Linked DNA regions of Homo sapiens: region 1 is linked to region 2. Evidence: fine-mapped expression QTL. A gene starts in region 2. The other region holds a variant in brackets. All regions are shown on one strand. Distances are between the middles of the regions.

Evidence for each region. PIP is the estimated chance that this variant, and not a neighbour inherited with it, causes the effect.
Region 1: its variant is the best candidate, but not a certain one, in a credible set for the expression of NAPA in whole blood (INTERVAL, PIP 0.52).

The regions. Positions count from the first base shown.
Region 1 is chr19:47,542,413-47,547,780 of GRCh38, forward strand. It overlaps ZNF541 (zinc finger protein 541), which reads right to left. Exons shown (of 17, transcript NM_001277075.3): 5 at 1,714-3,568. Among named protein-coding and RNA genes, the nearest start is that of ZNF541, 28 kb to the right of the region's middle. The variant T/C (reference allele first, on the strand shown) is at 2,846.
Region 2 is chr19:47,512,355-47,517,722 of GRCh38, forward strand. NAPA (NSF attachment protein alpha) reads right to left here and starts at 2,709. Exons shown (of 11, transcript NM_003827.4): 1 at 2,489-2,709. The coding sequence starts at 2,586. RefSeq lists a silencer at 2,658-2,997 and an enhancer at 3,088-3,357.

The sequences.
Region 1 (5,368 bases), 30 kb after region 2:
TGGGAGGCCGAGGCAAGCACATCACCTGAGGTCAGGAAAGACCAGCCTGGCCAACACAGTGACACCCTGGCTCTACTAAAAATACAAAAATTAGCTGGGCATGGTGATGTGTGCCTGTAATCCCAGCTACTTGGAAGGCCCAGGCAGGAGAATTGCTTGAACTTGGGAGGCAGAGGCTGCAGTAAGCCAAGATTGCACCACTATACTCCAGCCTGGGCAACAGAGTGAGAGACTCCGTCTCAAAAATAAATTTGGCCAGGCACAGTGGCTCACACCTGCAATCTCAGCACTTTGGGAGGCTGAGGCGGGTGGATCACGAGGTCAGGAGTTCAAGACCAGCCTGGCCAAGATGGTGAAACCTCGTCTCTACTAAACACACAAAAATTAGCCAGATGTGGTGGCGCATGCCTGTAATCCCAGCTACTCGGAGGCTGAGGCAGAGAACTGCTTGAACCCAGGAGGCGGAGGTTGCAATGAGCTGAGATAGCACCACTGCATTCCAGCCTGGGCGACAGAGTGAGACTCCATCATAAATAAATAAATAAAATAAATTTAAAAAATAAAATAAAGTGGTGGATTTGGCTGGGCATGGTGGCTCATGCCTGTAATCCCAACACTTTAGGAGGCCGAGATGAGAGGATTGCTTGAGCCCAGGGGTTCAAGACCAGGCTGGGCAACATAGCGAGACCCCCTCCATCTCTAAAAAATATATAAAAAATAAAATGGTGCATTATTTGGCACCTGAATAATAAAGATGTTAACAAAACAAAAATGAGGTAGCTGTGGTATGATGGGAAGCTACTCATCCTCCTGAGTAGCTGGGACCACAGGCGTGCACCACCATGCCCAACTAATTTTTTTTAAATTTTGGTAGAGACAGGGTTTCGCCATGTTGCCCAGGTTGGACATGGAGTCAGGAGACCTGGATGAGCTCTTTGGACCAGGCCCTCCAAACACAACATCTGGAGGAACCAGTGAATAATTATCAATGTGCTTAAGTGTGGGGCACGATGCAGGTGCCCACTTGTGCTTGTGGAAACCAAGACTCACAATCAGAAAACACATGGCCATTTCAAGCAGGAATCTTTAAAGGAAAGAGAGCATCTACCTTCATATCCTCTGAAGATTCTAAAAAGGCAAATCCAAAGGGAAACAAGAGAAAAAAAAAAGCAAAAAAGGCTTTGTGAGATAACAGTGTTTTGAACAACTCTGGGATATCCTCATGTTGATCTTTTTTTTTTTTTTTAAGACAGGGTCTTGCTCTGTTGCCCAGGCTGGAGTGCAGAGACACAATCTCAGCTCACTGAAACCTCCATCTTCCAGGTTCAAGCGATTCTCCCCCACCTCAGCCTCTCGAGTAGCTGGGACCACAGGCGTGTGCCACCACGCCCAGCTACTTTTTTAAAATTTTGGTAGAGACTGGGTTTCGCCATGTTGCCTAGGCTGATCTCGAACTCCTGAGCTCAAGCAGTCTCCCCACTTCAGCCTCCCATCCCAAAGGGCTGGGATTACAGGCATAAGCCACCTCACCTGGCCTCATTCTGGTCTTTTTTTTTTTAGTGGGGAAAACCACAATCTTTCGGAACCTTAATTCCTTCCTCTGTAAAATTGCATCTGGGGACTCTCTGAAATGAAATAAAATGCCTGGACAACTAACAAATGCAAAGGAAACTCACTCCACTCTGGTCAGGCCACGTGAGAGAGAGCTGGTACCTGGATTCTGCTGAATATTGTCAGCTTGGACTTGGAGGGATCTGCCGGGGGCCCGGCCGATGAGAAGGAGGCCATGGCTACCTGGCTCGGAGAAGCCGCACAGCACATATCCATCTTCGCCTTCTCTTTCCGGAAGCCGGAGAATCGCGGGGCCCTGGGGTTGCCCAAGAGCCGGTAGCCTCCACCCCGGGAGCAGGCTGGGCCCTTTTCACCTTTTGTGATCCTTGAAGCCGCGCCATTCTCGGCTGGGGCCTGCTTCCCTGGCAGCGAGGCTCCTGGTGGCTCCTCCCCACCTAACTGGGTCTGCCGTTGGCCTGTGGAGGGGAAGATGTCCTCCAGGTCCAAGGTCCCTTTAGAGGATCGCAGCTGCTTGGCCAGAGAAGAGATGTCTGGATTCCTGGAAGGGTCCAGAGACGGTGCTGCAAGGGGCGTTGGAACCGCGGCCACTTTCAGTCCCCCCTTTGCGTCTCGTCTCGTGCTGCCGGGGGAGGCCTCTCTGGGAACCCCGGGTGTGGTTTTTCTCCTGCGGGCTGGGGAGCCCTCTGCCTCGGGGTTTCCAGGGCCGGCGTGGAGAGAGTCCACAGCAGGAGCCAGTGGTGGGGGCTGCTGCGGCCACGGCCCCTGCAGCGGCCTCAGGGCGGCTGGTTTGCCCTCGGGCGCAGGGAGCTGGGAGGAGACTGCTGCCACCTGGGCATGGGAGAAGATCCGCTGGGACTTGGTGATCATCTGGAACACCTGCATCTGCTCGTGGCTCACAAGAGGTTCCTGCGACTTGAGGAAGAGCTGGCGGAAGAGCGGCGAGGCATCCGCAGGGAGCCCGCCTGCCTTCTGGGCCTCCTGGAGGCCGGGCTCCCCGGGGTTCTGGCACAGGAAGGAGTCGCAGTCGACCTTGACCTTCTTGGGGGCGCAGGGGTCATCTTCCCCGCTGGCCGACCTGGGGTCGCTCGGGGCCTCCGCGGGGACCCTGAGGAGCGCGGCAGGGAAGGGCAGAGCATCCTCCAGGCCACCGCCGGGGCCGGGCGGGGACTCCTCCGAGGGGCTTCCGCTGCTGGGTCCCGGGCCAGACTCGGAGCCCTCCCGCGAGGGCACGGCCGAGGGCTTGTGGACAACAAACACGTTGTTGCCTTTGCTT[T/C]TGGGACAGCCCGGCAGGTTCCGGAGCCACTGGAAGCTGTGGCTCGATGGCTGGGAACTGGCAGGGACCGTCTGGCCTCGGAAGAGAGGCAGGCAGGCAGGCACGGAGCCGCCTTCGGGCCAGCACTCCGCGGTGGACCGGGCCTGGAGCAGCGCGGTATCTGGCTCCGGCTCTGGCGGGTCGGGGGCGCCGTTCTCGGCGGCCCTGGAATTAGGGGCTGTGAACACGTCAGTGGCCGGCTCTTTCTGTGGGAGGCAAGGCTCCTCGGGAAGCTCGGTGTCCAGCGCTGCTGGGGCCGCGTGGGGGCCGGCTGGGGTGCAGGACGAGGACCCCGATGAGGCGGGGCAGGGACAGGCAGTGTTCCTCCCTTCGCTGTCTGAAGCCCCCGCCGGGGCTGGGCCAGGAGAAGGGGTCTTCTGGTGGACGATGCTACTCACGATGCGGCGCAGGAGGTCCCGGTGGGGCAGGAGGGAGCCGGGGGACCTGGCCTCTGGGGGCACCAGGGACCGCAGGCTGCTGGGGGGCGGCTGGCCGGCCGACTCGTGGGCGTGGGGGGAGTCCCCGCAGGCCTCTTCCTCCGGGGGGGCTTCCTTCAGGATGCACAGGCCGTGATGGACCTCGTAGTGCCGGCGCAGAGAGCGGTAGTCGCAGTAGCTCTTGCTGCAGCCCTGCTCGATGCACACGAAGGGCTTTGTCTTCTGGTGGGTGAGCATGTGCCCGGTCCTGGAGCCAGACACAAGCAGGGGCGTCACCGGGGCACCTGGGACCGGGCTTTCTGCTGTAGGACCCTGGTGGCCCCCAAAAGTCTGTGGTACAGTTGCACCACAATTCAGAAATTGTACTCAGCCCCCACGAGGAAAGACCACCCAGCAAACCCTGCTTCGGTCAAAGCCATCTGGCAGGGGAGTTCCTCTCCCCTCACCTTTAAGCAAACCCCTTACAGAAAAGTAAAAAAAAAAAAAAAAACCAGCGGGGCACAGTGGCTCATGCCTGTAATCCCAGCACTTTGGGAGGCCGAGGTGAGTGGATCACTTGAGGTCAGGAGTTTGAGACCAGCCTGGCCAACATGGTAAAACCCGTCTCTACTAAAAATACAAAAAATTTAGCTGGGTGTAGTGGCACATGCCAGTAATCCCAGCTACTGGGGAAGCTGAGGCAAGAGAATCACTTGTACCCAGGAGATGAAGTGCATTGCAGTGAGCCGAGATCACACCACTGCACTCCAGCCTGGGTGACAGAGTGAGACTCTATCTCAATAAACAAACAAACAAATAAATAAAATTTTAAAAAATACAAAAAAAAAAATCCACTGAGGCCAGATCAGATTTCCCCAGAGTGGGTTCCCAAGGAACACAAAGACCTCCAGAGTTGCTCCTCAAGGACTTTGGCACAGCTAATAAATAAGTTTTGAAAAAACACCATTCACTCCTTGGAGGTTCACGATGCACAGTAGCAAATTTAATTAATTAATTTTTTGTTTTTGAGACGGAGTCTTGCTCTGTCACCCAGGCTGGAGTGCAATGGCACGATCTCGGCTCACTGCAACTCTGCCCCCCAGGTTCAAGCGATTCTTGTGCCTCAGCCTCCAAGTAGCTGGGACTACAGGTGCGTGCCACCACGCCCAGCTAATTTTTGTATTTTTAGTAGAGACGGGGTTTTGCCTTGTTGGCCAAGCTGGTCTCGAACTCCTGACCCTCAAGTGATCTGCCTGCCTTGGCCTCCCAAAGTGCTGAGATTACAGGCGTGAGCCACTGTAGCCGGCACACAGTAGCAAATGTAAAAGCCACACAGAGAGAGACCTGTTTAACTTTCAGTGTCTCTCAAACTTATTTGCCCAGAGAACTGTTTTTGGTTTTGTTTTCAAAAAGCCCCTATTAGCATTCCTGAGAACCAGAATTCTGCAGAATAGACTGGAGGAGATGCTAACTTGGGGACGATCCTTCCTTTAACAAAGGAATCTGTGCCTTACCGTAGGAGACCCCTAAGAAGATGCTACCTGGAACCCCCCACAGCAAAGAAGCCAATTTACAGAGGCCCAATCCATAGAAACATTATAGAGCCAAACAGCCAAATGTGCCTATAGTTTCTGCAAACAGAAATGCATGTAAATATGTATTGCATCACACCTACCTCTGCATTAACACATTATAAATATAAGCAGAGGAGTACATCACCCTCTGGGCCCCCAACAGCCCTGCTCTGGACAGTCCTAGTCGATGTGGACTAAATCATAAAGTCTTTCCCCAAAGGCTCACCCTCAGCCTCTGTCTGAGGGAAGCAACAGAGAGGGAATCAGGAGACCTAAGTTCTACCCCCAGCTATTACCAACTTGTGACATGAGCAAATTGGCTCCTTTTCCTGGGGTAGGTGTGGGTGAGAGGATAAGATGAAAGATGGATTAGTCAAAGCCCCTTGTGAAAGGGAGGAGCCCCATAAGAATGCTAAGTACTTTCATCTCCCACTTGCAGGTCTCCTGGTTTGAAAAACATGTGTCTTTCTTTCCCCCACAGGCAAGACAAGCTT
Region 2 (5,368 bases):
CCTGGTTCACGCTGCTTCCTCTGAGCTCAGACAGTCACAGGAATGACATCATCGAGCCCCTCCTTACAGTAGGTAATTCCACTTTATTGGTGTTTGCTGTTCATCCTGCCTTCCCAATCAGGTAGCAAATGCCTTGGGGCTGACTTAGCTGCTCCCTCCAAGCACACAGTCCAACAGCCCACTAATCCCTGGGCCAAAGGGACCAGACACCCAGAGCCACCCAGGAAAACTATCACCAAAAACCCAGCTCGTGGCCCCACCCCCAAACACAGCACTTGAACTTCTCCCCTTGTGAAGAAAAAGAAACACACACACACCCTCTCTCTCCTCGCAGCCTCTAAAATAAAACATTTTTCACCTAATCAATCCAGTCCATCAGCCCCGGATGTTTCTCCACACCAGGCAATTCGCCATCATGTTCTTCAAGTTATTTTGCTAAACATTATCCAACCTCAAACAAGGGGCGTGGCCTAGAGCCCTTTTCCTGTTCCTTCCTCTCTTGTAAAGATCCCTCTCCTTCGTGTCTTACCAGCCTCTGCCAGGCTCCTACCACAGTCTCTTCCCATCCCCAGGCCCTCCTCCCAAACCCCCTTCTCCAGCCTTCTGCAGATGTTCCCAGTCCCACCACCGTCCCCAGGCTCTGCTTCTGAGTGGCCACCACACACTGTTCTCTCTACAAGCCCACTAGTCCTTTCCCAGGTCTCCTCTCAGTTTCCACAACCTCCCCTTGACCCTTTCGGGTCGTCCCATCAGCACAGATCCCACCACCTCCCACACCACCGCCCCCTGCCAAACTCCCTTCTCCTTCCTCTGCCCAGAGCCTCATGCTCCTCTCAACCCTACTAAGTCTTCGTGGATCCCTTTTCTGTTCCCTTTCAGCTCCTCTTAGCACACTCATGTTTCTCAGTCTCTCCCTCTCCTGACCCCTCCCAGACCTCTCCGCTCGGGCGTCCACCTTGAACCCCCATCAGCTCTCTGCACGCTCCGAACCTGTTTCCTTCTGGAAGTCACATTAACAACAGCTAACACTCTCAGAGATGTAACTCCACGCCAGGCTCAATTCTAACACTCATAGCAAATGGGAGGTAGGTTTGATTTGTGATCTCCTTTAGCAGGGAGACTAAACAATTTACCCAAAGTCATGAAGTAAGTGGCAGAGCTACTTGGGCTCTTGGCACTTCTAAGCCACTACAATTTATCACAGGATGGTCGTGTCAGCTTTTAGGAGCTAACGTGAGTTTTATGCCACGTCATATGTGTTAGTTCTGTCTCCCAGGCCTTTTCCCATCCCTCTTCTCAGCATGTCTCTGTCATCCCTATTACTCGAGGATCACACAGCAGGAATTTGATCCCCCGTTTTGGTTCTCTCAGTCCCCCTGTCTCTCCCTGTTATCCCTCCATCTCCTTGGCCAAGCCACCACCACGCATTCCCCCACCCAGGAGTCTCCAGCCTCAACCCAGGCCTCCTCAGGCTTTTTTCTTTCTTTCTTTCTTTTTTTTTTTTTTTTTTTTTGAGACAGAGTCTCGCTCTGTCCCCCAGGCTGTAGTGCAGTGGCTCGATCTCGGCTCACTGCAACCTCTACCTCCGGGTTCAAGTGATTCTCCTGCCCCAGCCTCCCGAGTAGCTGGGATTACAGGTACCCGCCACCAGGCCCAGATAACTTTTGTATTTTTAGTAGAGACGGGGTTTCACCATGTTGTCCAGGCTGGTCTCGAACTCCCCGCCTCAGATAATCTGCCCACCTCGGCCTCCCAAAGTGCTGAGACCTCCACAGTCTTGACTCCATCATCCCGGGTTCCTCCGTTCAGCTGTCCTTAAACTAGTCACTGCTAACCAGGGCCGTACTCACCCCATGCACCCCCCACACTTCAGACGCGGCTCACCGCTCCTAGGATCATCTAGCCCTGAGCCCCTCTGCCTGGTGTCAGCCCCCTTCAGCCTTCACCCTCACCGCCCAGGGCCCACGCAAATCCACTGCTCCAGGGGTTGAAAAGGTCAGTCCCTCGGGCAGGCGTCCTCAGCCCCAGGCCCCATCACTGCCGCCTGAGAGCCTTCAAACAGACTCCCCTAGAGCTCCGAAAAGCCTCTGGACCTGGCTTCTCTCCCGGACTCCCTCCGTCCCCCCAGGCCGGTCCCCTCCAAGGCTTCAGGACGTACTCCCTCGGTCCAGGTTCTCCCCCGCCCGCTGGCCTGTCTTCGGCCTGGGTCCCCTTCCTCGCCTCAAGATAGTGTCGCCTCGGTCCGTGTGTCCTCAGCCCAAATCCCTTCCGCCATGTCAGACCGTCTCTCCTCAAACCGTGTTGCCCCGGCCCAGGCTCTTGGCCCTCAGCCTGCGTCCCCTCTGCCGCCTCAGGCCATGTCACCTTATTGCAGGTTCCTCTCCGTCCCCTCGGCCCGAGCTCTGCGTGCCCTAACCCGCCACCTCCGAGCGTGACTCCTTCGTCCTCTCAGCCTAGGTCCCGGCCGACCCCTCAGCCCGGTTCTCACCCAAAGAGGCCAGAGAAGAAGGACTGCGAGTTCTTCACTTTGCGCTCCGCCTCGGCCAACAGCGCCATCGCCTCCGCTTCCTTCCCGGAATTGTCCATGGCGGCCACAAAGGGACTCAGCAAAGCGCCTGACCCTGACCCTGGGAAGACTCAGCCGCGGCCGGGCCGCGGAACACAGATCGGTAAAACTCGCCCGGCTGCGTTGACGTCGCACCGGCGCGCGTCGCTTGCGGCCAGGAACCACGTGACTAGCGCTGGCCAACCAGCGGCCTCGTAACGCCGCGCCCGCTCCGCCGGACACGCCCCCACCAGCCGCCGCACGCCGCCCGTGACTCGTGACCCCCCAATCGGCGTCAAGAGACCTCAACGCATGCGCACATACCGGCGAACGGCGCTCCACTCTCTCCCCAGCGCTCTGTACCTCACCTCCCACGTGACCCTGTGGAAGGCAATGGCAGTACCCCCCGCCGAGGCCCCGCCCCACGGTGTTGCTGCTGGATCCTCCTCCACCAATCAGCAGGAGCCCTCGGCTCGCGCTGGGGCGGGGGGTCCCCCACTCGCCCTCCCCGCGGAACTCTGGCACAGTCAGCTGACCGCAGACACTCACGTGACAGCTCGGGGCCCACGCCCGGGTTTGACAGTTCTGCGCAGAACTTAGTCCCGCCCCCGCGGCTGGTCTCGCCGGTTTCTTCACTTGGAAAGGCGTTTGTGGGAAAAGGAAACCGTTCTGCTTTTTCTTGCTCCCTCTGTCGGCCAGTACTAGAACTGCTTTGGGGAGACCGGTGAAGAGAGACTGCAAACAAAAACTTAAGAGGTTCTCTAACTCTGGTTTCATAAAAAATAGCTGAAGAGGGCCGGGCACGGTGGCTTACGCCTGTAATCCCAGCACTTTGGGAGGCCGAGGCGGGCGGATCACTTGAGGTCATGAGTTTGAGACCAGCCCGGCCAACATGGCGAAACCCCGCTCTACTAAAATACAAATATTAACCGGGTGTGGTGGCACACTCCTGTAATCCCAGCTACTGAGGAGGCTGAGAGAGGAGAATCGCTTGAACCGGGGAGGTGGAGGTTGCAACGGGCCGAGATCGTGCCACTGCACTCCAGCCTGGGCGACAGAGTGAGACTTAGTCTCAGAAAAAAAAAAAAAATAGCTGAAGAGAGCGTGTTAAAAAAAAATTCAGATTCGAAGATGGGCGCGGTGTCTCGTGCCTATAATCCCAGCTACTCGGGAGGCGAGAGGATCGCTTGGGCCCAGGAGTTTGAGTCTAGTTCAAGTCCCGCCTTGGGCAACATAGCAAGACTCTGTCTCTAAAAAAAAAAGTTTAGGCTCAAACACACCTCCTGCTGTCCCAGAAAATTGAGTTGCTGGTTTCTGAGACAGGGTCTCACTCTTTGGGTTGTTGGTTTTGGAGACAGGGTCTCGGTCTGTCGCCCAGGCTGGAGTGCAGCAGCACAATCATAGCTCACCTCAGTATAACTTTGTAGTGCCAGAAAGGAAGGAAGTATTCCACACGTGTGCTCACACACAAAATTAGGGGGTATGCCAAAGGAGCCAACTGAAAGAACTCCCAATGGCCAAAGCTGGAACAATTTGAGCATCAAAATAAAGTAGTATTGGATTATAATCCCAAACATAAAGTATCCATGAGCCTATGGTCATATAGATGAATATAGAACAAATAAATAAAGGGGGGAGAATAGACAAATAGTTTGTGCAGAAGAATTCCAAATAATCTGCGTAGATACTCTGCTCTCAAGAAGGTGAAGGATACCTCCCCATTCTGTAAGTATGGACTGTGCATAGTGACTTCCTTTCAAAGAAGAGGGTACAAGAAAGGGGAGAAAAAGCCTAAATTTACAGTGGAGAAACCTGACATTGACATCTAGGTGATTGAGGTTAACCTCAACATTGATAAGTCATGTGATTAAAATGGCTCTTTACTTCTGGGATCTTTCAATCTAATCATGAAAAAAACACTAGACAAATTCCAGTTGAGCCACATCCTCCAAAATACTTGCCCAGTACTCCTCAACACTGTTGGTGGGTGCAGTGTGTCACATCTGTAGTCCTGGTACTTTGGGAGGCCAAGGCAGGAGGATCACTTGAGGCCAGGAGTTTGAGACCAGCCTGTCCAACATGGGGAAACCCCGTCGCTACTGAAAATACAAAAAACTTAGCCCGGTGAGGTGGTGCATGCCTGTAATCACAGCTACTTGGGAGGCTGAGGCAGGAGGATCACTTGTACCCTGGAGGTGGAGGTTGCAGTGAGCGGAGATTGCCTCACTGCACTCCAGCCTGGGGGACAAGAGGGAGACTCCGTCTCAAACAAATAACACTGTCAAGTCATCAAAACAAGGAAAGCCTGAGAAACCATCACAGCCAAGGAGACGTGACTGCTAAATGTAATGTCTTACCTTCGGTGGGATCCTGGAACAGAAGGGCATTGAGTTAAAAAACCAAGGAAATTGGCCGGGTGCGGTGGCTCATACCTGTAATCCCACCACTTTGAGAGGCTGAGGCGGGTGGATCACCTGAGGTCAGGAGTTCCAGACCAGCCTGGCTAACATGGAGAAACACTGTCTCTACTAAAAATACAAACATTAGCTGGGCCTGGTGGAGGGCGCCTATAGTCCCAGCTACTCAGGAAGCTGAAGCAGAATTGCTTGAACCCAGGAGGTGGAGGTTGTGGTGAGCCGAGATTGTGCCACTGTGCTACAGCCTGGGTGACAGAGTGAGACTCCATCTCAAAACAAACAAAAACACTAAGGAAATCTAAATAAACTATGAAGTTTAGTTAATAATATTGTGCCATACTGGTTCATACGTGGTAATAAATGTACCATTCTAATATAAGATGTTAATCATAGGGGAAACTGGGGT